Regions from separate parts of the Homo sapiens genome. Here regions 1, 3, 4 and 5 are each reported to be linked to region 2. The links are microRNA targets in miRTarBase. Many come from high-throughput screens and were not tested one by one. Region 2 holds a microRNA gene; each other region holds the end of a gene's coding sequence.
Evidence for each region. The annotated mature microRNA hsa-miR-559 reads UAAAGUAAAUAUGCACCAAAA and lies in region 2 at 2,391-2,411, shown strand. An mRNA with a match to its seed (bases 2 to 7 or 8) in the 3' UTR can be bound and repressed. Matches are read on the target gene's strand: a 7mer-m8 pairs with bases 2 to 8, a 7mer-A1 pairs with bases 2 to 7 and ends in A, and an 8mer does both.

Region 1: the mRNA of LEPROT is a reported target of hsa-miR-559. Seed matches in the 3' UTR shown: 7mer-A1 at 1,764-1,770.
Region 3: the mRNA of TM6SF1 is a reported target of hsa-miR-559. Seed matches in the 3' UTR shown: 7mer-m8 at 2,974-2,980.
Region 4: the mRNA of MTA2 is a reported target of hsa-miR-559. The part of its 3' UTR that is shown has no 7-base or 8-base seed match.
Region 5: the mRNA of MTMR6 is a reported target of hsa-miR-559. Seed matches in the 3' UTR shown: 7mer-m8 at 1,390-1,396 and 7mer-m8 at 669-675.

Annotation. Positions count from the first base shown.
Region 1 is chr1:65,431,495-65,435,494 of GRCh38, reverse strand. It overlaps LEPROT (leptin receptor overlapping transcript), which reads right to left. Exons shown (of 4, transcript NM_017526.5): 4 at 1-3,692. The coding sequence ends at 3,576. All of the region lies in intron 2 of LEPR (leptin receptor), which reads right to left. Among named protein-coding and RNA genes, the nearest start is that of LEPROT, 13 kb to the right of the region's middle.
Region 2 is chr2:47,375,300-47,379,504 of GRCh38, forward strand. It overlaps MIR559 (microRNA 559), which reads left to right and starts at 2,376; the gene lies at 2,376-2,471. It overlaps EPCAM (epithelial cell adhesion molecule), which reads left to right. Exons shown (of 9, transcript NM_002354.3): 5 at 1,715-1,778; 6 at 3,654-3,755.
Region 3 is chr15:83,136,184-83,140,183 of GRCh38, reverse strand. TM6SF1 (transmembrane 6 superfamily member 1) reads right to left here. Exons shown (of 10, transcript NM_023003.5): 10 at 2,776-3,703. The coding sequence ends at 3,512. It overlaps HDGFL3 (HDGF like 3), which reads left to right. Exons shown (of 6, transcript NM_016073.4): 6 at 909-4,000. The coding sequence ends at 914. Among named protein-coding and RNA genes, the nearest start is that of TM6SF1, 31 kb to the right of the region's middle.
Region 4 is chr11:62,590,033-62,594,237 of GRCh38, reverse strand. MTA2 (metastasis associated 1 family member 2) reads left to right here. Exons shown (of 18, transcript NM_004739.4): 18 at 198-1,024. The coding sequence ends at 363. TUT1 (terminal uridylyl transferase 1, U6 snRNA-specific) reads left to right here and starts at 2,715. Exons shown (of 9, transcript NM_022830.3): 1 at 2,715-2,834. The coding sequence starts at 2,753. RefSeq lists enhancers at 2,564-2,793, 2,210-2,905.
Region 5 is chr13:25,245,879-25,250,083 of GRCh38, forward strand. MTMR6 (myotubularin related protein 6) reads right to left here. Exons shown (of 14, transcript NM_004685.5): 14 at 344-3,614. The coding sequence ends at 3,354. Among named protein-coding and RNA genes, the nearest start is that of MTMR6, 40 kb to the right of the region's middle.

The sequences.
Region 1 (4,000 bases), not on the chromosome of region 2:
TTGGGAGGCTGAGGCAGGAGAATGGCGTGAACCCGGGAGGCGGAGCTTGCAGTGAGCCAAGATCGCACCACTGCACTCCAGCCTGGGCAACAGAGCGAGACTCTGCCTCAAAAAAAAAAAAAAAAAAAGAAAAGAAAAGGCACATTTTGTGACACCACCTAAGCATTTCCCTGAGAACATAAAGAAGGTTATTAACATAATGAACTATTTCAGCCTTGAAAACAGTATTCATTGAGGAGATACCTCAGAGGTAAGGACTTCCTTAGGACAGTAAGAAAAATCTATGAGTTCTTAAGTGGAAGAAAAGAAACAACTATGAAAAGCAGGACCAGCTCAGAACTCCTCCTGAGGAAGAGATGAGGTATGACAGGATTTTCCCTGTCCCAAAATATTGCTATCCTTCTATAAGCTGCTGGAATCTTTCTTCATTCCGTTCTCCCATTCTCTGTGAATGAGAATCAGTGGGTTATGAGGCATTCTCTAAAAACGCAGGTGCAGCAGTCATGGGAATGGCAGTCGGCCCAATGCAGGTGTCAAAAGGAATTTCAGATGTGGAGAAGATAATCACAAGGCATTCTTTCTGTGATGAAGTGTGATCTGCTTTCTTCTCAGCACCACATGACATCAGCTGTACTTAGAGAACTGACTAATGGGAGGAGAAGGGTGGGTGACTCTGGAATATGAAGAACCTCAGGAGGGAGGATGGAGCCCAGTGGGAAGGTTCTCAGTTGGGAGAGGTGAACAAAACTCCCAGGAGTGTACCTGGATCTCAAGGGCATTAGGAGGTGAAAATGAGTGGAAAAATTAAAAGGAGAAAGACCTTGTTCTTAGGAAAAGGGGTGGAAAGTTGCACTGTCCTTCCTCCAAACTACTCACACTACCCTGTCTCAGAGACCCAAAACTCAGGCAGGCACCTTCAGTATCACAGGTTAGGTATATTAGAGTTGAACCTGTTGAGGGAGGCTTGGCCTGGGAACTCAATCACCAATTCATAGTATTGTTTCTGTGGAAAAGTGTCTCAAAGTCTGCTTGTAACCCACTTGTTTGAAACATGATAAAGAATCCCTTCATAAGATTATTTACTTGTGGCCAATTTTGGAAGTGCAATCTCAGTTTTCGACTATAGTCACTATGCTCTGAATCTCCAAATATATTGTACAATATATAAAAAAAGAGCCTTTTATAAGGAAAAAAATGTCCAACATTTGTGTCACCATGATCAAACTTTTGTATTATATATTCAGATATAGCAATATTTCCTATTAATATTTACTGTTTAAATGATATTTAGGCACTGCAGAATAGCTCTCTTTTCAGACATAGAGCAAATCTAATAATCTATCACTTCAAATACTCTATATGCAAGTACTTTATATCAATCTAAAGATACAATCAAGAGGTAATGCTTTAAGGCTACATATGAAGGCTACCTTGGTTATTGAAAATGTGTATAAGCAACAAAAACACTTTTGCAAAATGTAGTAGAAATGAATCATTATTGCCATCTTAGAAAGAAAAGCTATTGCACACCAACTAGACATTCAAGATGGTATCCTAAAACTTATTGCTACTGTTCTGTTAGGACAGATTATTGCTCAAAACTGCCCATTTTAAAACATCAAGAAATTCTCTCATTTTTGTTATCTTTTCAGGCAAGGCAACATCACAAAAAAATTTTAAAGTTAAACTTTTAAAGTTAAAAGTGAAATTTATTACAATACAATAAATGCAAGTGTCATTATTAAAAATGCCGGTTAAAATTATAAAGTATCTAAATAATTTTTCTAATATAAATATTGGAAATGACAACTTTAACAATTCTATATGTACACAGGACACTGAAAACATAAAATCATGAACAAGGCCAAAAAATAACGTTGCACATTAACCCTTTAGTTATTACTTTCTATTTTCCAGTCCCAGCATCATACCTGCTAATTACTCAGATCACAAGCCTCAAGGATTAAGTGTTTTGAATGTATTTCAGTTTCATACTTTAACAATGCTTAAAGACTATTGGTTGTATTCTGATCAAATGGTTCTCCTTCCCATATTTCCCTTTCTCAATAGATCTTAGACAAAAAGGTGAGCAGGGAAAACTGTGATTACAGGATCCAACATGACAGGTATACCCAATGATTCATTTAAGGGTGGCATAAAGTTATATAGAAAAGACCTACAGGACGGAAGACAAGTACATCAACACGTAGTGAAATTAAGCAGTTCACCCACTGCGTGCTTACATGGCTCCTATATCTCTTCGGGAAGAAGCCAGAGCCGTAGAGAAGTCAGGGCAAACCAGAACTGTTGAGGAGTAGGGGTGGGGGGCAGAGGGAAGGAGCTGGGGAGAAGTGCCAGATCATAAAGGAAATGTAAAAGAGTTACCTATCTGTTCTCCCCCTCCTGCTAACGCAGGGGCTGGCTCGAGCCCAGCCTCCCTGCCCGCATCTCAGTGGAGCTCTTCCCCCAGCATTGTCTTTCAGATGAAAAGATACATCTGTTCCCCACTGAGATGTTTTTTTGGGGGAGAGAGTATGTTTTGTTTTTTATTTTGATTATATATTGACAAATTATTGTATATTTTTATAGGGTACAATACGGTTTTATGATTTTTGAATATAAGGTGGAATGATTACACTAATTAACATATGATCTCAAATATTTAACTTTTTTATGAGAACATTAGAAATTTACTCTCTTAGCAATATTGAAATATACATTCAATTATTCCTATATTTAGCATGCTGTGCAAGTGATCTTTAAAAAAAAATCACACTTATTCCTCCTAACTGAGGCTTTGTACCCTTTGACTGTCTCCCAATTCTGAGAACACTTTTCATAAATTTGAGGAACTGCCTAAATATTATAGGCTTGAACATCTGAACTTGTCCTCAGCATGAAAGCAGGTGAGACTTTTTTTTTTTTTTTAAACAAATGAGCAGGTAACACCCAGAGAGGTTAAGTGGTTTAGCCACTGGAAAGATAAGGAAGTTGGGTGTGATGTTTACTTCTCTATGATGATGCTTCTCAAACTTTCATGTGCATACAACTCCTTTGGATCTCATCAAAATGTCCTGGGTCCAGAGTGGGGCTTCAGATTCTGCATTTCTAATAAGGCTCTAGGAAATGTTGAGGCTCTTGGTCTGTGGGCCACACTTTTAATAGCATGGACTACAACACAAAGAGGGATCCACCCCGGCCTTCCTGGGTCATGAGAGGCCTGCTTCAGCGTTATCTGCCTCTCCAAGCACATCCCCAAGCAAAAGGTTTCGATGCACTGCATAAGGTGGCAGCTGCCTACAAGACTGCGTTAATATATTTTCTGAGAGCACCGTGACTACATGAACAGCCAAACAAGTAACATAATTTGAGTAACATAATCTAAATTTGACAGGTCTATTTGCTGAGAATAAAACTCATCTCCTACTTATGAAGTCTTTCTTAAAGTGAACATGATATATAAAGGTATTAAAAAACCCAGCATATTAAATTTCATAGTAAAATGCCGCATGTGCACATGTATACAGATAGTATGAGTTCTAAGAAATTCAATGCACTGTAATCAGAATAAAGTGCTACCACTGCTCCCAGCTAAAATCATCTCCTCTTCCAAATATAAGGAAAAACCCTTGAATTGTAAGGAAAATGACTGCATTGCCTGCCAACACAAGGCCGCAGGCTCCCCATTTGATCTGAAAGACAAGAAAAGAAGGATTAAATCCTTACTTCCTTCATATTGTACTCTTTGCAATCCCTATTATTTTCTGCATTAGAAACATCCAATGAAATGTTACACAAAGCTGCTAAAAGGCTTAATAATGTAACAGGAGACAATGAACTGTTCAGTAATGAGTCTAATTACTTCTGTGATGCTTGTTAATTAAGTCTGGTATCATCCTTAACATGTTCCCAATTAGACATATTTCTCTACTTGTTTTTAATTGACAATGATTGCCTTAAGTAAAACTCAAGTGGTAAGATTATAAATAGTGCAATTACA
Region 2 (4,205 bases):
GTAAGTGCAATTAAATGCATCATATTCTTGCACAGTTGGTGGCTCAAATCTTCCATCCTACACCATTAGAAAAAGCAAGTCTAAATGCTTTTTTATATTTCTGAAAAATAAAGTTACTTGAAATAGAGTTGCAAGAATAGCACAGAGATTCTGGGAATACACTTCACTCAGATTCACCAATTAACATTTTGGCACATTTGCTTTTTATATGTGTATGTGTGGATGAATATGTGTGTGTGCTTTACATCAGTGTATCTATGCATGTATAAATATTTTTCCCAGAAGCACATGAGAGCAAGTTGTAGACATCAGGCCCCTTTACCCCTAAGTACTTCAGTGTATGTTTTCCTAAGAACAAAAGGCATTCTTTTATATAAACCACTATACAACGATCAAATTTAGGAAAAATTTTTTTTTTTTTTTTTAGACGGAGTCTCGCTCTGTCACCCAGGCTGGCGTGCAGTGGCGTGATCTCAGCTCACTGCAACCTGCGCCTGCCGGTTTCAAGCGATTCTCCTGCCTCAGCCTTCCAAGTAGCTGGGACTACAGGTGCCTGCCACTACGCCCTGCTAATTTTTGTAGTTTTAGTAGAAACAGGGTTTCACCATATTGGCCAGGCTGGTCTCGAACTCCTGAACTTGTGATCCTCCCGCCTCTGCCTCCCAAAGTGCTGCAATTACAGGTGTGAGCTTCCGCGCCCGGCCAGGAAATTTAACGTTATATCACGTTGTGCCCATTTTCCCAATATTGTCCTTTGTAGTAATTTTTCCCCTCTGATTCAGGACCCAGTCCAAGATCCATGTATCACATTTAGTTGTCATGACTCTTTAGTCTCTTAATATCGAACAGTTTCTTGGCCTTTCTTTGTCTTCCATGAACTTGCTATTTTTAAAGAGCATGGGCAAGTCATTATATATAATGTCCCTCAAATTTTGATTTGTCTGATATTTCCTCCTTTTTTTTTTTTTTTTTTGAGTTGGAGTTTTCCCTTTTGTTGCCCAGGCTGGAGTGCAATGGTGCAATCACGGCTCACCGCAACCTCTGCTTCCCGGATTCAAGCGATTCTCCTGCCTCAGCCTCCTGAGTAGCTGGGATTACAGGCGTGCGCCACCATGCCTGGCTAATTTTTTTTGTATTTTTAGTAGACACGGGGTTTCTCCACGTTGGTCAGGCTGGTCTCGAACTCCCAACCTCAGGTGATCTGCCCACCTCAGCATCCCAAAGTGCTGGGATTACAGGCATGAGCCACCTCACCCGAGCCTTGATGTTCCCTCTTAACTAAAAGCAGGTTATGCATTTTTGACAGGAAAACTACTTAAGCGATCTTGTGTCCTTTATAATACTTCACATTAGGAGTTGCATGATGTCAGCTTGTCCCTTTACTAGTAAAGTAAACTTTGGTTAAAGTGGTATCCACCAGGTTTTTCCACTGTGAAGTTACCATTCTCCCTTTGTAATCCATAAATAATCTATGGGCAGATACTTGGATACTAAGTAAATGTTCTTTTTCTAATTAAACTGGTACCCAGCAGTTTGAATATCAATGGATGATTCCAGCCTGAATCAATTATTATTATGATAGTTGCAAAATGGCAGAAAAATTTTAACTTTAATGACAGTTTTAGACCCTGAGCTGTCTGCTTAAAGAGTAGTGCTTCTTACTGTTGTGTGGTACAAACATTTTTTTTTAATACAGATTTTAAATTCTTTACAGTGCACTTCAGAAGGAGATCACAACGCGTTATCAACTGGATCCAAAATTTATCACGAGTATTTTGGTATGATTTTTTAATAAGTGAGCTTTAGCAGACAGTTGGTGAGACAGTATGTTTTGAGTATAAGGACAGCCAGTGATTTAAGTGGTGGTTAAATGCACTTACTGGAGCAACAGTTTCGGATCTGGGTACTTAATGTGAATTTCCTGTTACTGTTTTTTTTTGTTTGTTTGTTTCTTTAAGACAGACTATTGCTCTCTTCCCCAGGCTGGAGTGTCATGGCAAGATCTCGGCTCAATGTAACCTCTGCTTCCAAGGTTCAAGCAATTCTCATGCCTCAGCCTCCCGAGGAGCTGGGACTACAGGCACATGTCACCATGCCCAGCTAATTTTTGTATTTTTAGTGTCGGCGGGGTTTTGCTATGTTGGCCAGGCTGGTCTCGAACTCCTGGCCTCAAGTGATCTGTCTGCCTCAGCCTCTCAAAGTGTTGGGATTACAGGTGTGAGCCACCACGCCCGGCCCATTGTTTTTGGTTATCGTTGTTTTCCTTCCATAGCCTTTGAAAAGCCTAGTTTTACTCCTAAAGAAAACGTAGTATCTCTTAGTATCCCTAAAACATTTGAGTTTTCTTATCCTGGAGAACCTGTCCCTGTGGATGAGCTCCAGTAACATCTTAAAGTAAATATGCACCAAAATTACTTTTGGTAAATACAGTTTTGGTGCATATTTACTTTAGGATGTTACTGGAGCTCCCATCTTCTCTGCTTTAAGGAACTAGTCCTTAACTAGTTAGCCCTTACTTAACTCTTTAAACTCTGGTTTAAAAAATAAAAAGAAGCTTGAATAGTGTGACGGAACTCTTTAAAGGTAGTATGAATTTATTCAAGAGTCTTTAGAAAGAATGTACTTTTTTTACTCTTTAAAAACAAAATGATGGCCGGGCACGGTGGCTCACGCCTGTAATCCCAGCACTTTGGGAGGCCGAGGCAGGTGGATCACAAGATCAGGAGATCGAGACCATCGTGGCTAACACAGTGAAACCCTGTCTCTACTAAAAACATACAAAATAGCCGAATGTGGTGGTGGGCACCTGTAGTCCCAGCTACTCGGGAGGCTTGAGGCAGGAGTATGGCGTGAACCTGAGAGGCGGAGCTTGCAGTCAGCTGAGATTGTGCCACTGCACTCCAGCCTGGGCGACACAGCAAGACTCCGTCTCAAAAACAAAACAAAAAAACAACATGGAAAATGCATGCTGCGTTTTACCTTGCATTTCTTTTTCTTTTCTTTTTTTTTTTTTTTTTTTGAGACGGAGTTTCGCTCTTGTTGCCCAGGCTGGAGTGCAATGGCGCCATCTCGGCTCACCACGACTTTTGCCTCCCAGGTTCAAGCGATTCTCCTGCCTCAGCTTCCCTGGTAGCTGGGATTACAGGCAATGTGTCACCACGCCTGGCTAATTTTGTATTTTTAGTAGAGATGGGGTTTCTCCATGTTGGTCAGGCTGGTCTTGAACTCCGGACCTCAGGTGATCCGCCCACCTCAGCCTCCCAAAGTGCTGGGATTACAGGCATGAGCCACTGCACCCGGCCTTACCTTTCATTTCTTTAGTAATTTAGTTTTAAAGTAGTTCTAATCCAAATAAAATACTTTCATATCTTATTTAAAAATCTTTTCAATATAAGAAAATCCTCTTAGGAAAAATTGTACATTGTAATTATGTTTGGTTGCATGGCTGTCTTATTTCCCTTTGATAGATTTAGAGACCTCCCAAAGATTTCTTGATTAGTGATAAACTTAGTTATCCACTAATGGAAAGGAACAGTGATGCATGTAGATTATAGAAAATCAAACACTGAATATTCTGATTCTCAATTAATGTTATTTTCAAATGATTTTGATTATATTAGTATTAATTTGTATTATTCAATTTTTTTCCCCAGTATGAGAATAATGTTATCACTATTGATCTGGTTCAAAATTCTTCTCAAAAAACTCAGAATGATGTGGACATAGCTGATGTGGCTTATTATTTTGAAAAAGATGTGAGTATCATCTTCTTTATTCCTGTGTTCAGGAATGTAGTCTATCATGCCTCAATGAATTAAATATATTTCATCACCTTTTTATCCACTTACAGATCAACCAAATGGTTCGCTGCTGCCGTTAATTTTGTCCTCCCTGTCACTCACATGCATCTTGCTTGTTTGTATATTTATGCCTCTTATCAAATTGTTCTGCCTAAAATATCTCCCCTCTTTCTTATAATTCTTATTTATTATCTACTTGGTGGTTACTTAGTTTGTGCATATATGCTCCCCTATGATATTTATAATTTACACAAATAAAAGTCTGTTAAAAAAGACTGTAACTGATATGATTAAAATATTTTGTTGAAACTTTAATATATTATAGTGAGGTATTTTCTGCTGAAATATGAGGTTTGCTTCAAAATAATCTGGGCGGGGGTGAAAGGATGAAAGGAAGAAAAGATG
Region 3 (4,000 bases), not on the chromosome of region 2:
TATAATATATACCATTTAGTATACATGTTGGGCTGTCTGAATGAGAACATACCCATCAGTGTGCACATGTGCTTACAAACATGTTCATTCATTTAGTGAAATTAAGAGTGGAAGCAGGCTGTTTTCAGAAAAAATATTTGAGGGCTGAGTTCCCTCTTTCATTCATCCCATGAGGGTATTACTAGGGGGTTTAATATATTTGGGTTAATGATGAGGGGGAAAAAATAGCATCCTTTTGGGGAAATAGAACCAGACACAATTTAAAGTGGGACCCAAATAGAAACATAATTCTTTTATGAAACAAATGTTTTATTTTCTGTTTGTCACACGGATGCCATCTAAATTTTAAAAGAAATCTAGGCTTCCTCTTATTCTTTATGTTTTTTTTAAAAGCAAGAAGTCAGAGACTTTGTACATCATGATTAACTTCTACATTTGTTTGAGCTATGTGTCACAAGTAATTAAGTTATAAATATTCTGAAGATTAATTGGTGCACACTCTAAGTGCTTTTTAAATTTTACACAGCTTACCTTTCTTTCTGAAGAATGTCCTCACAAAGATAGATTATATCAATTTCTCCACTGATGATGTATTCCAGCAATAAACATAGTCCTAGAATTGTAGAATGTGCACTGCTGCACTCTGTCCTAACAGACAGTAGACAAGGTTTATAATTTTTTTCTATGGGACACTAAAAATACCCTAGGATTTCCTTTAACTTTTTGCACTGACAGGTCTAAAGCAAAGCCACAGAAGCTGCTCTTGCTCAGTAAGTATTGTTAATGCTGCAGTGCATATTAAAATTTCAGAAAACCCAATTATGTACTATCTAGGTGTGGATAGCTCTCATTGTTAGTATCCTAAATCATCTAAAGGCTTGTTTTCTTTCTTTTTTTTTTTTTTACAGACCTAACTACCATAATGAATGCTGCATATTAAGAGAAACCACAAGAAGGTTATATGTTTGGTTGTCTAATATTCTTGGATTTGATATGAACCAACACATAGTCCTTGTTGTCATTGACAGAACCCCAGTTTGTATGTACATTATTCATATTCCTCTCTGTTGTGTTTCGGGGGGAAAAGACATTTTAGCCTTTTTTAAAAGTTACTGATTTAATTTCATGTTATTTGGTTGCATGAAGTTGCCCTTAACCACTAAGGATTATCAAGATTTTTGCGCAGACTTATACATGTCTAGGATCCTTTTATCAAGGCAGTTATGATCATCGTTTTCCTGCCTTGACCCCACCATCATCAAACACTCAGTTAAATATAAATTAACATTTTTTAGATGACCACTCAACATAATGCTTAAGAATGGAATTTCCTCTCTGTGACAGAACCCAGGAATTAATTCCTAAATACATAACGTTGGTATATTGAAGACGAAATTAAAATTGTCCTTCAGTTTTGAGGCCATGTGTAAAGTTTAACCATATTGTAAAATATCTATTCCGTATTAGAAATAGCTAGTTGACAGCTTATACTTCTCAAAATTCATATTGTTATGTACACAAACTAAGTTTCTATATGTGAAGTTAGTGAGTCTTTTTGTGTTACTCCAAAATAAAGGCAATGATTTATTTTTTTCCCAGTGCCAATACAATTTTGAGCTAAGCACTCAAGGTGGATACTTTACATTTTAAAGCTGGAATCAGCAACAGCCCTATGGGAAACCAGACAAAGCATTGACTTTTAAATGTAGACTTTTAAAATAAACTGTTTTCTTTTGGAACTACAATTAGAATAGTTAATATTCATCCTTAAACCATTATTATGTGTACATTATTGTTGCTATTGTGATAATAGAGAATTTTATTTATTTTTATGCCAGCTTATATTGTGAGAACACATTTAGTCAGTTTGGGTTTTATCAATCCTGTTAATGCTTGTCCTTGGAACATCTTTCGCGTATTCACGGTTTGTAGTTGAAAAGTTTACTGTAAAAAAATCAAAAACAAAAAAATGTATTGTTTTTACAGAATAAATTTATTGGAATGTGTACTGGGAGTAAGATTTGAGGTTGTAAGCAAACTAAGTTAGTGTAATTTGGCTTCATATATGTAACGTGAGGTATTAATGTAATTCATATATTAAAGCAAAAATTGTTCACAGCAAGCTGACAATAGAATCAAGTGCAGGTGAGGGTTTTTCTTTTTCTTTCTTTTTTTTTTTTTAAACACTCTCTGGGTTTTAGATTATTTGAAAACACTGTAGGGGATGATGGGGAGATGACTACATGATTTGCTTACACTTACATATTTACCAGCCCAGTGGACCCTAGATTTTGTAATTTGATATTATCCATGCATTGATTTGTATCCCATTTTCTTTTGGTTTTCTTGATGAGAGCTAATAAAAACATGAGAAAATGTGAGCAGACCTAAAAGCCTAGGGCCGTTAATAATGATGATGGTGATGATGGCAGCTAAGGGTATGAAAGCACCAGTCCATTTATCATTCCAGGGCACAGTGAGGAGGTGGCTGTTTGTATTTTTGGTGTGTTTCTTTCATTTAGTGAATACTGATTTTCTCTAGTATACTCAACATACAATCCCAAACATGAAAAGTTCATAAAAAGATAGTAGGGATGTCGATCTAATACTTCTTCCTTAAAAGGTCCTTTTTAATTTTGAATATTTGAATGTATTTTTTAATTAATGAAATTTAATTCATCAAAAGACCTCTTCATTGCTCACACTGAAACATAAGGGGAATGTAGATGGCATTTTGAATTGGAATATACAACTCACAAATTTTCTTTAAAAGCGTTTTATGTGTATATATGAAATGTTTCAAATTTAATAAGATTTGTCTTTATAAGAGGCCAAAAATAATTTTATTAAAAATATACACAGAAATACAATAGAAATATTTCCAGCCACCAATAAAACAAATGTTCATTAAGGATAGAGATAAAGTTACTGATCCCTATTTAGCTGTTTAAATTCACACAAAAAAATTTAGTAAAAGTAATTTTCTTGAAACAGCAGCAAATAATAAACTTTCCTTGGGAAAACATTTTTCAAACAACATTTAAAAATATTCTGATGATTTGCCTTTTATATTGAGTTTAATAATGAAGCATATTCATCTTATTTGCAAAAGTTACTCCTCCAGTCTGCATTCACTGTTTTGAATTTTTTAATATGCACAGGCCATATTCTCTTTTGAATAGTTTCATTTCATGCTCACTACTGTTGGCACTAAATTGTAATTTTTTACACTTATAATTATTTTATATGTCAAACAATATTGAGATGGATGATCAAGTTTATTCACAAATGATTTTGAATATATTTCTTTAAACAAACTGTTTCTCAAGAATTTCCATTTTCCTTCAAAAAAAATTTACACAATACCATATAGCTCACACATACAGTGCAGAGCAAGAATGTACATATTCTTAAGTACTCACGTATGAGAAGAGAGTGAAATGGGACAAAATATCAGTACCAGTATAACAAAAGTTAGTAATTTAGAAAGGAGGAACATGAAGTAATATTTTTATTCCACTTTTTCTTCTGCCTTTGTTTTTATGAAGAACTCTGGTTTGTAGATACAACGATAGGCCAAGAGCTGAGGAAGAACTCCATATGCTATGTTTAATGCTAAAAAAAGGATTTTTGCTTCTTCAGGGACTCTGTAGACATAAGCAGTTCTAGCATGAAGAGATGCACCAATGTGAGAAAACTGAGCCTGTTGCATTTAAAAAAAAAAAATTGAGTAAGCATGAAACGTGTTCAGTTGGATGCATGATGAGTTCTGAATGGTTCATTCAGGCTACGTTTCTGTGCCCTCAAAACCAGTCTCACCTGCAGGCAAAATACCTTCAAACAATCCAGAGTCTTTAATGTCAGAGTCTTTCATTAAATTTAGTCCTTGATTAAATTTAGGGCCATTCTTGATATGACTGTTCAAATAAAGTAGATATTATTTAGTGTAGTTTTATCATGCCAGTTGTGTTTTTTAACCATCAAGTGCCCCTTACCGAAC
Region 4 (4,205 bases), not on the chromosome of region 2:
GGGCTGAGAGGGACAGTCCAGGCTGGTGAGTGTGGGGAGTAGGAGTATCAGAGCAAGAGCTCCAGGAAAGTTGTGGATGCAGGGTGGGGATGCCAGAAAAGAATGGGCCAGAAGGCATAATTGCAGTGTGGGGCTTCACCTGGAGGTCTTAATGTTCTCTAAGCCTTTTCTGTTTCCCACTTGCTCTTTCTGGCCAGGGCCCTACGGAAGGCTCTGACCCATCTGGAAATGCGGCGAGCTGCTCGCCGACCCAACTTGCCCCTGAAGGTGAAGCCAACGCTGATTGCAGTGCGGCCCCCTGTCCCTCTACCTGCACCCTCACATCCTGCCAGCACCAATGAGCCTATTGTCCTGGAGGACTGAGCACCTGTGGGGAAGGGAGGTGGGCTGAGAGGTAGAGGGTGGATGCCCAGGGCACCCAAACCTCCCTTCCCTTTCGTGTCGAAGGGAGTGAGGAGTGAATTAAGGAAGAGAGCAAGTGAGTGTGTGTCCCTGGAGGGGTTGGGCGCCCTCTGGTGTTACCACCTCGAGACTTGTCTCATGCCTCCATGCTTGCCGATGGAGGACAGACTGCAGGAACTTGGCCCATGTGGGAACCTAGCCTGTTTTGGGGGGTAGGACCCACAGATGTCTTGGACAGTTTTGGGGGGAGGGTTTTTTAATTTTTTAAAAATTTTGCCTCCCTTTGTGAAAGGGGATGGGGAGGGGAAGAGTAAACAGATAACAGGTGGTGGTACCTGGTTGGGGGAGGGGGGCGTGCACTGCCATGTCTTTTTTTTTTTTTTTTTTTTTTTTTTTCCTAATTGGGGGTTTCTCTTTCTGTCCGGTGTCCGGACTTTCCTAATTGGAGTTTGAGGCCCCTAAGCTGGCATCAACCCCAGGCCACGCTCGCTCTTTCCTTCCCTCCCCTCCCCCTCTGCCTTTTGTACGCCAGTTCTCAGAAATAAAGATCTTTTGTCCGTTTTTTTAACCTCGGATTCTGTAATTGGTTCTTATAGTAACAAATAAAAAGCTGTTTTCTTCAGCTTCTCCTGGCTCAGCTGTTCTTTGCCATGGGTGTGTGTTGTGTGTGTGTTGGGGGTGTCTTTGAGAGGGAAAATAAAGGACAAAGGACAACAAAGGAGGTACAGATGGTTCTTGCCCTGGGAACAGCTTTATGAGATAGGCAGCCTGGACCCAGGCGGCTTGCTCCAGCTAGGCTTCTTGTGGGACCCAAACTGCTCCCCAGCTCCCAGTGGTGCTGGAGCTCAAGAACCATCTTGGCCCAGATTCATTCAAAGGAGTTGAGATGAGCTTTCTGGATGACTGGTGGCCTCCATAGGAAAGGGGAATGGGGGTGTTTCTTCCTCTGTTTCCCACCTCTTACTCCCCTCTCCCTTTTGTTTAAGGAATTCTGGAAGTTGCTAGCAGCCAGGGTAACATGTATACCCCCTTGGGGGTGGTGGTGGGGTTATAGGAGGATCCCCTCACCTAGCTGTGTGGTGTATTTGGCAGACGAGAATTCTACCACTGAACCACCCTAGCACCTCTGGGTGTATGTGTACAGCCTGCTGCTTCAGGATCCTCAAGGCCAGTCTCGATGATATCCCGATCCACTGTAGCACTGTTTCCTGCCTTAAAGGTTTGGGACACTGAGATTAGATGCCTGAGCTGGGCCCATTAGAAGGAACACCTTAGGATAGAGAACAAGAAGTTCAGCCTGCTGTGTGCTCCTTGGGCACTTCCTTTAGAGATGGGAAACGGCCTCAACAGTTGTGACTTGTTCAAGGTCAAAGACCTTGGTGTCTGCCTTAGGTCCACTGCTCTTTGCGCCATTCAAAGCTGTGGGCTGATAACCACAGCACAAGCTGCTGAGCCCATCTGATAGTTCTCTCCACCTCGTTATGGTCCCTGTCCCTAGGGCATCCCCAGCTCCCCGTAGTCCCTCCCTGTCCTGAGCCTACACCTCGGCGGCGTTGGGATGAACTGACAATTATACCAGGAGGGGGTTGACAGCATTCGCCCCCTCCAGTGTCTAAACTCAGTTACTGGCACTCGGTTTTGTCTTGTCGCACTGCTCTGAGGTGCGCCAGTAGCTCTGGCGCCTCCGGCGTACACCACGCAGCCCACTACTGCGGAAGGAATGGGCCTGGCTCCAGGACCTCGTGGAGTCCGGAAGGTGCCCGGTGGTGGCAGAGCTCCCCAACCAGGGCTAGAAGCCGTCGCAGAACACCCGTTTTGCGGGAGGACAGGGGGCGGAGGGAGGGAGTAACAGCCCTGAAAAGGTTGGAAGTCCAGGGACAGCCCTGGGCTCCGTGGGGCAAAGAATTGGAAGCCGCCGATCCTCCGCCTTTATTCGTCGGGTAAATAAGGGTCGAGGGTACAGACGCACGGGTGTCTACTGCGGGGTGAAGGAGCTGCCGCAAGATGCCACCCGGCGCCGGCCTTTGTGGCTGCTGTCATGAATATTCACGATGCTTTGGGCCAATCAACGTCTGAACAGCTTAAAGCACACCAATCGGCTTACCGCATGCAGATAAGCATCGTAACGCGCCGCTTTTCCTGAAACGGGCGGGGACTGGACAGCGGCTAGAAACGGAACCCAGAGTCGAAGGAGCTTGGTTTCCGGAGGAGTGTGTCCGCGCAATTGAACGACTTTATGTCACTTCCTATCGGATCGGCGGAAGTTGCTTCCGAGCGCGTTGAGCTTTGGCGAAGTGGGTTCCGGTGGTGGCAGAGGTGCTTGTGTTTTTGTCGGTACAGGAGAGTCGCTATGGCGGCGGTGGATTCGGATGTCGAATCGCTGCCGCGTGGGGGGTTCCGCTGCTGCCTCTGCCACGTTACTACAGCCAACCGTAAGCGGTGGCTAGTGAGGGACCCGGGGGTGGTTGCGGGCTTTCGTCTTTTGATCCTGGCGAAAGTTAGGGTTATAGGTAGTCAGTCGTTCTTGTCAAGTTGATTGGTAGGGTCTCTCACCTCCGTTTTTCTCTGCAAGTCCGAGGGGATTTGGAGAGTCGGGAAAGTTCCACCACATTACACTCCTCAGTATATGAAATCTCCACAACGCAAGTTTAATTGTTTTATTACTTCTTTAACCATCATCTATTGGACATATGCTCTGTGCCTGGTATTCTGCTGATCTTTAGGGTGGGGGAGGGGGGTTCAGAGATGAAGGAGCTCACCGTCTAGAGAATGAGAAAGTTTCAATGCTTTATAGATATGTTCGGAGAACTGTGGGACCACAGAGAATTAGTAACTAAATCAGAGAAGCCCTACAGAGGACCTACTCAAAGGAGGGGATGGATGAAATAGGTGTGGCATGAATGACTAGACCATAAGGTACCAGTGAGGAAGAGACAGAAGATGGGTTTGGAAAAATAGACAAGGTTCTTGTATGACACACAAGGGGTTCACTGTAACTTCAAATTCCACTTTTTTTTTTTTTTTGAGACAAGGTCTTGCTCTGTCACCCAGGCTGCAGTGCGGTGGTGTGATCTTGGCTCACTGCAGCCTCAACCTCCCGGGCTCAAACCATACCCCTGGCTAGCCTCCCAAGTAGTTGAGTCTACAGGTGTGCACCACCATACTTGGCTAATTTCTTTTTTCTTTTTTTTTTTTTTTTGAGACAGAGTCTCACTCTGTCACCCAGGCTGGAGTGCAGTGGCACGATCTTGGCTCACTGCAAGCTCCACCTCCTGGGTTCACCCCATTCTCCTGCCTCAGCCTCCCGTGTAGCCGGGACTACAGGCACCCGCCACCACGCCCGGCTAATTTTTTGTATTTTTTAGTAGAGACGAGGTTTCACCATGTTAGTCAGGATGGTCTCGATCTCCTGACCTCGTGACCCGCCCGCCTCGGCCTCCCAAAGTGCCGGGATTACAGGCCTGAGCCACCGCGCCCGGCCTACTTGGCAAATTTTTTAGTTTTTTGTAGAGATGGGTTTTCACCATGTTGCCTAGGCTGGTCTCCAATTCCTGGCCTCAAGCGATCTTCCCATCTTGGCCTCCCAAAGTGCTGGGATTACAGGCGTGAGCCAATGTGCCCAGCCCTACTTTTGAAGTCTGGAATCACAGTGTTCCCTAAACAGGGTTTACTTCCATTCTTCCTTTTCACTGTGAATGGCACTATCACTGTTCATCCAGTAAGCCAAGCCAGAAACCTAGGAGTCTTCTTTGGCCCCACATTTACTTTGGTGACATCAAGCAGCTAACTCAATAAAATAATAG
Region 5 (4,205 bases), not on the chromosome of region 2:
TCAAAAAAAAAAAAAAAAAAAAAAAAAAAAGAATAATTCGGCATCCCTTTAAGAACAAACAAGATGTTTACTGACCATGATGGGTGGTTTACAGCAGTGTTTCTCAAAGTATGATTCCCCAACCATTTGCATCACAATATCCAAAATATTGCTAAGTGCAAACAATTTATTGGTATGCAAATGATTTTAACTCCAGAGTCCCAACCCCTAACTACTGAATCAGAAACTGAACACCAGGGCTATAGAGTCTACTACTAGCTTCTGAAAGTTCCTTTCAGTTATGCAGGCCACTATTTTATAAAAGTTGCCATTTAAATGGATATTTTACTTTCCTAGAAATAACTAGAGTAGCACAAATACTGTTTATTAAAATGTCAAGGTTTCATGTTTACATTTTCTTATATCAAGTACAATGGTATATATACTTTTTTTTGAGATAATTATTCTAGATTCCAGGCTTTCTTCTAGATGTAAGTTCCTAAAGCTTATAGTTTACATTGATATCTAGACATATATCTTAAACAGTCTCCAAATTTTCTTTAATTAATCAAAGTATGTTAATGTCACTTGGAATTCTACATGGAAAAGCCAACAAAATAACTAAAACTTGACTAATGAAGATCAGCGTCACTAATAAAAGTCTGCAACTGTAGTATTAGGTTGGTGCAAAAGTAATTGCGGTTTTTGTCATCACTTTCAATGGCAAAAGCCCCAATTACTTTTGCAGCAACTATATAGTTTTATAAATGATCAGCATTTAATCCAACTTAGCATGTCAACTGGAAATTTTTCAATATTTTAAAGCTGACCTTCTGCAAAAAATGTTTCAAAACAGGCTTGACTGACACCACCTCCCTGCTCTGCTACCCGACCAAATAAATTGAATTTGTTTTAAAAGAGTTCCCTTCATCTTTACTCAAGATTCCCTGAGCTACTTCTAGCCTAGCTGACCTTTTCAAAACACCCTCAATAAAATTATCCTCTTGTCAGCCAGTTATTTTCTTCCTCATATTTACATCCAGATCTGCCTTTGGAGAGACATTTCACCTCGAATGTTTGTACTCAATGGACCCTGCCTTCCATCAAGTTGGCAAGGGCACAAAAAAATAGTGATTGTAATATAAGCAAGTGACAGGAACAAAATGAAAACTTAATGACATTATTACCTACATCTGATGGGCCTTTTAGCCCACTATACCTATTTTAAATATTCTGGAAATTATTTTTGTATGAAACAGGTATTATTTATCAACAAACTTTTGGAAAATAAACTCCTCAAACCTTATGCTGTTATGTTAATGTAATGGGCAAGTCTACTTGCCTAGGTGAGAAGAAAAAAAAAACAACTACAACTTGATTCCATTTGTTTTATCCAGAAGAAAAACATTCAAAGTAAAATGTGAACATTTAATTACCTTTAAATCATATATGAAGTAATTTACATGCTATACACTTCCAAACACACTGAACATAAATTCAACTTTATAAGACATATACACAGTCTGCTTTTGCCAACATATACCCTGTAGGTCACTTAAGATGTAACTGATTTCTCAGTCCACCTGTGAGCATATAAACACACAAATATATGTCTGAAGTTGAAGATTAAGATAATAAACCAGAGTTGAATACAAGAAGTCAGCCACAGAAGATTCTAAAACCACAATCAGTGACTGGAACACCAAGGCACAAAAACTTCCCTTTGTAGTCACAGAGATTAAGTTTCCATTCCCAGTGCTTAAATATGGAAGCAGGATTGGTTAATCACATACTATATTTTATAGTGCATTTCTGTTGCTGTTTAAAAAGGAATATTTTTTAAATTACATAATGTATTACAGAAAAGCATTGGAAAAATAAACAGGATAAGATAAGCTCTCATACAATAAAGTTTTTTTTGGTCTGAAAAAGATGTTTATATTCAAAACTAATATAATAGAGGTGTAACAGAAAGTAGCATGAGGAACACTATGCAAATTGCCTAATACTCGAATTGTACTTCATGCCACCATGTTATTTAAATTTTCAATTTTAAAGCCAGTTGGGTGATATTGCTAATTCCAAGTGATAGTTTTGGGGTTTTTATGTTTTGTTTCTTGTTTTTTGGTAATTTAAAGATATGTACTAGTACACAGAATAAACAGTAAATATAACATGGCAAAATGAAATCTTTCCCAGAGTTTATGTTGCTTTTGTTAAACAGTAACTTTGTACTAGAATCTCTTTTTTTTTCTATATTTAACAAGAAGAAAAATAATGCTCCACATAGAAATGACTTCAAAATTCATGCAACCATGCACAACCTAAACTATCTGTACTTCCCTTTTTTATTTACCCAAAAGTTTTTGAGTAAACTGAAAGTTAGATACTCCAGGAACAGCAACTCATTGAGCAATAAGGCAGTTTAAAAATATACATATACATGTACTATTCATTGTTTCTCAGAACAGTTTTAGAGCTTTAGCTCTTTAAACTTACACAGTTGTGAAAGAAATAAAGCCAACCACAAAATAAGAATCAATGGAATGCAGTAATCCATATATAAAAGACAGTCAAATGTGCTTATACGTATTCAAGAAATCAATATTCTAAGCTGTAAATAATAAATTATCAAATGTAGCACTAAACAAATTATGATCAGAATAAACCTTCAGTTTCATTAATTTTGAATACAAAAGTGGGGCAGGCTAAACGTGAACAGTGTACTTCTACAAGTGTTTATATAGAAGTATTGTAGCATGCACCCCCAGCAGTAATGAGAGCACAATTCTTTACAAACAAAACAAGGCTGACCAGAAGAAAAACAAAACAAAAAATCTTGTTGTAGGCTGTAAAACTTAAGGGTAAAGAATCCACTGGGAATTTAAGGCTTTCTTAGAAATATTTTTCATGGCACTTTAACATTAAATATCACTAAAAGGCAAAATATGTAAATATTCATAGTTACAAAGCTACATAATTGAAAGTACATGCCATATCATTTATTAAGAAACTATGTTGTCAAATTTTGTTTTCTTGAAGTTAAATTGTACTTAAGGAAGGTTATTTATGTTTGGCTGAATTAACATAAATCATAAACGTCAATTCACTAGTGTACAGTGCAAATTGTGTTTTGAGTAAATACATCAAATACCACTCATTTCTTACAGAACTGAATGTCATTCCTTGCTGGAAATGCAATTAAAATGACTTATTTCTCTCACAAGGGTAGTTATTATCCTTCCTTCAACTATTAGCCTACTGTTAAACCCTAAAATTGTTATTAGACAAATTCCTTTTGGTTATGCTTACAGACCATCCTCACAATAATCCTTTTCTTGTACTGCAATCATTGCAGAAAAAACTCTATGAGTCTAACAAGTCATTCTTGCCACACCATACTCTAAGCTGACCACAGCAGGTTCTGATTTAGAAAACTCTTCTGCATATTCACTATAACGATTATCTGCCGGGCTGCTGCCCTCTATAGTTCGAAGAGCATCATTTACGGGTAGCAGAGTCTGCTCTTTAAAACACAGGGAAGTTTTGAGGTTAGGTGATTCAGGATGAACTGAATGTAACAATTCCTTGGTGAGGATGCCATCTGTTTGCTTATTTTTGCGTTGTTTAATTTTCTAGAACAAACACAAATTTGAAAAAATTACTAATTGCATAAGCCACAATATGTTACATGAAAAAAGAAAACATGCTTTTGCAAAATATGTTCTCTGTATGTATAATGCAAAACTAAATCTCAAAAAAGTAGAAACATTTAATGCATATGACATGGTTGAAAATCCTAATTGTGTACAATTTTTTGCTGTGGAAAATTGTTAGTTTTTATATTTATTAAACAAACAATCCAGCAAGACTTGACTGCAGGCGATCACTAGGCTTCCACACTTAAAATGGACATATATTACCTAGAAAGCATAACAGGTAAACATTTATAATAAAAGAAATGTGTATGAAACATTCACCCTGAAAACACAACAAACAAACTTGTGTAGCTAAAGGGCTCACTGACTATATAGAGTTTTTCTTACATGGTTTTCCTACAGTGGTTTGTTAGGTAAAAATAACAGACTTTAAACACAACAGAACTTTACTTTTTTAACAGAAGATTTTTAAAGTGTCCTGTGGCAGAGTATCATGCTCTCCAAATTCTTGGACTGTCCCGATAATCTTGTATTACCTATTATCCTGGACTTGCCTCTCTTGACCAT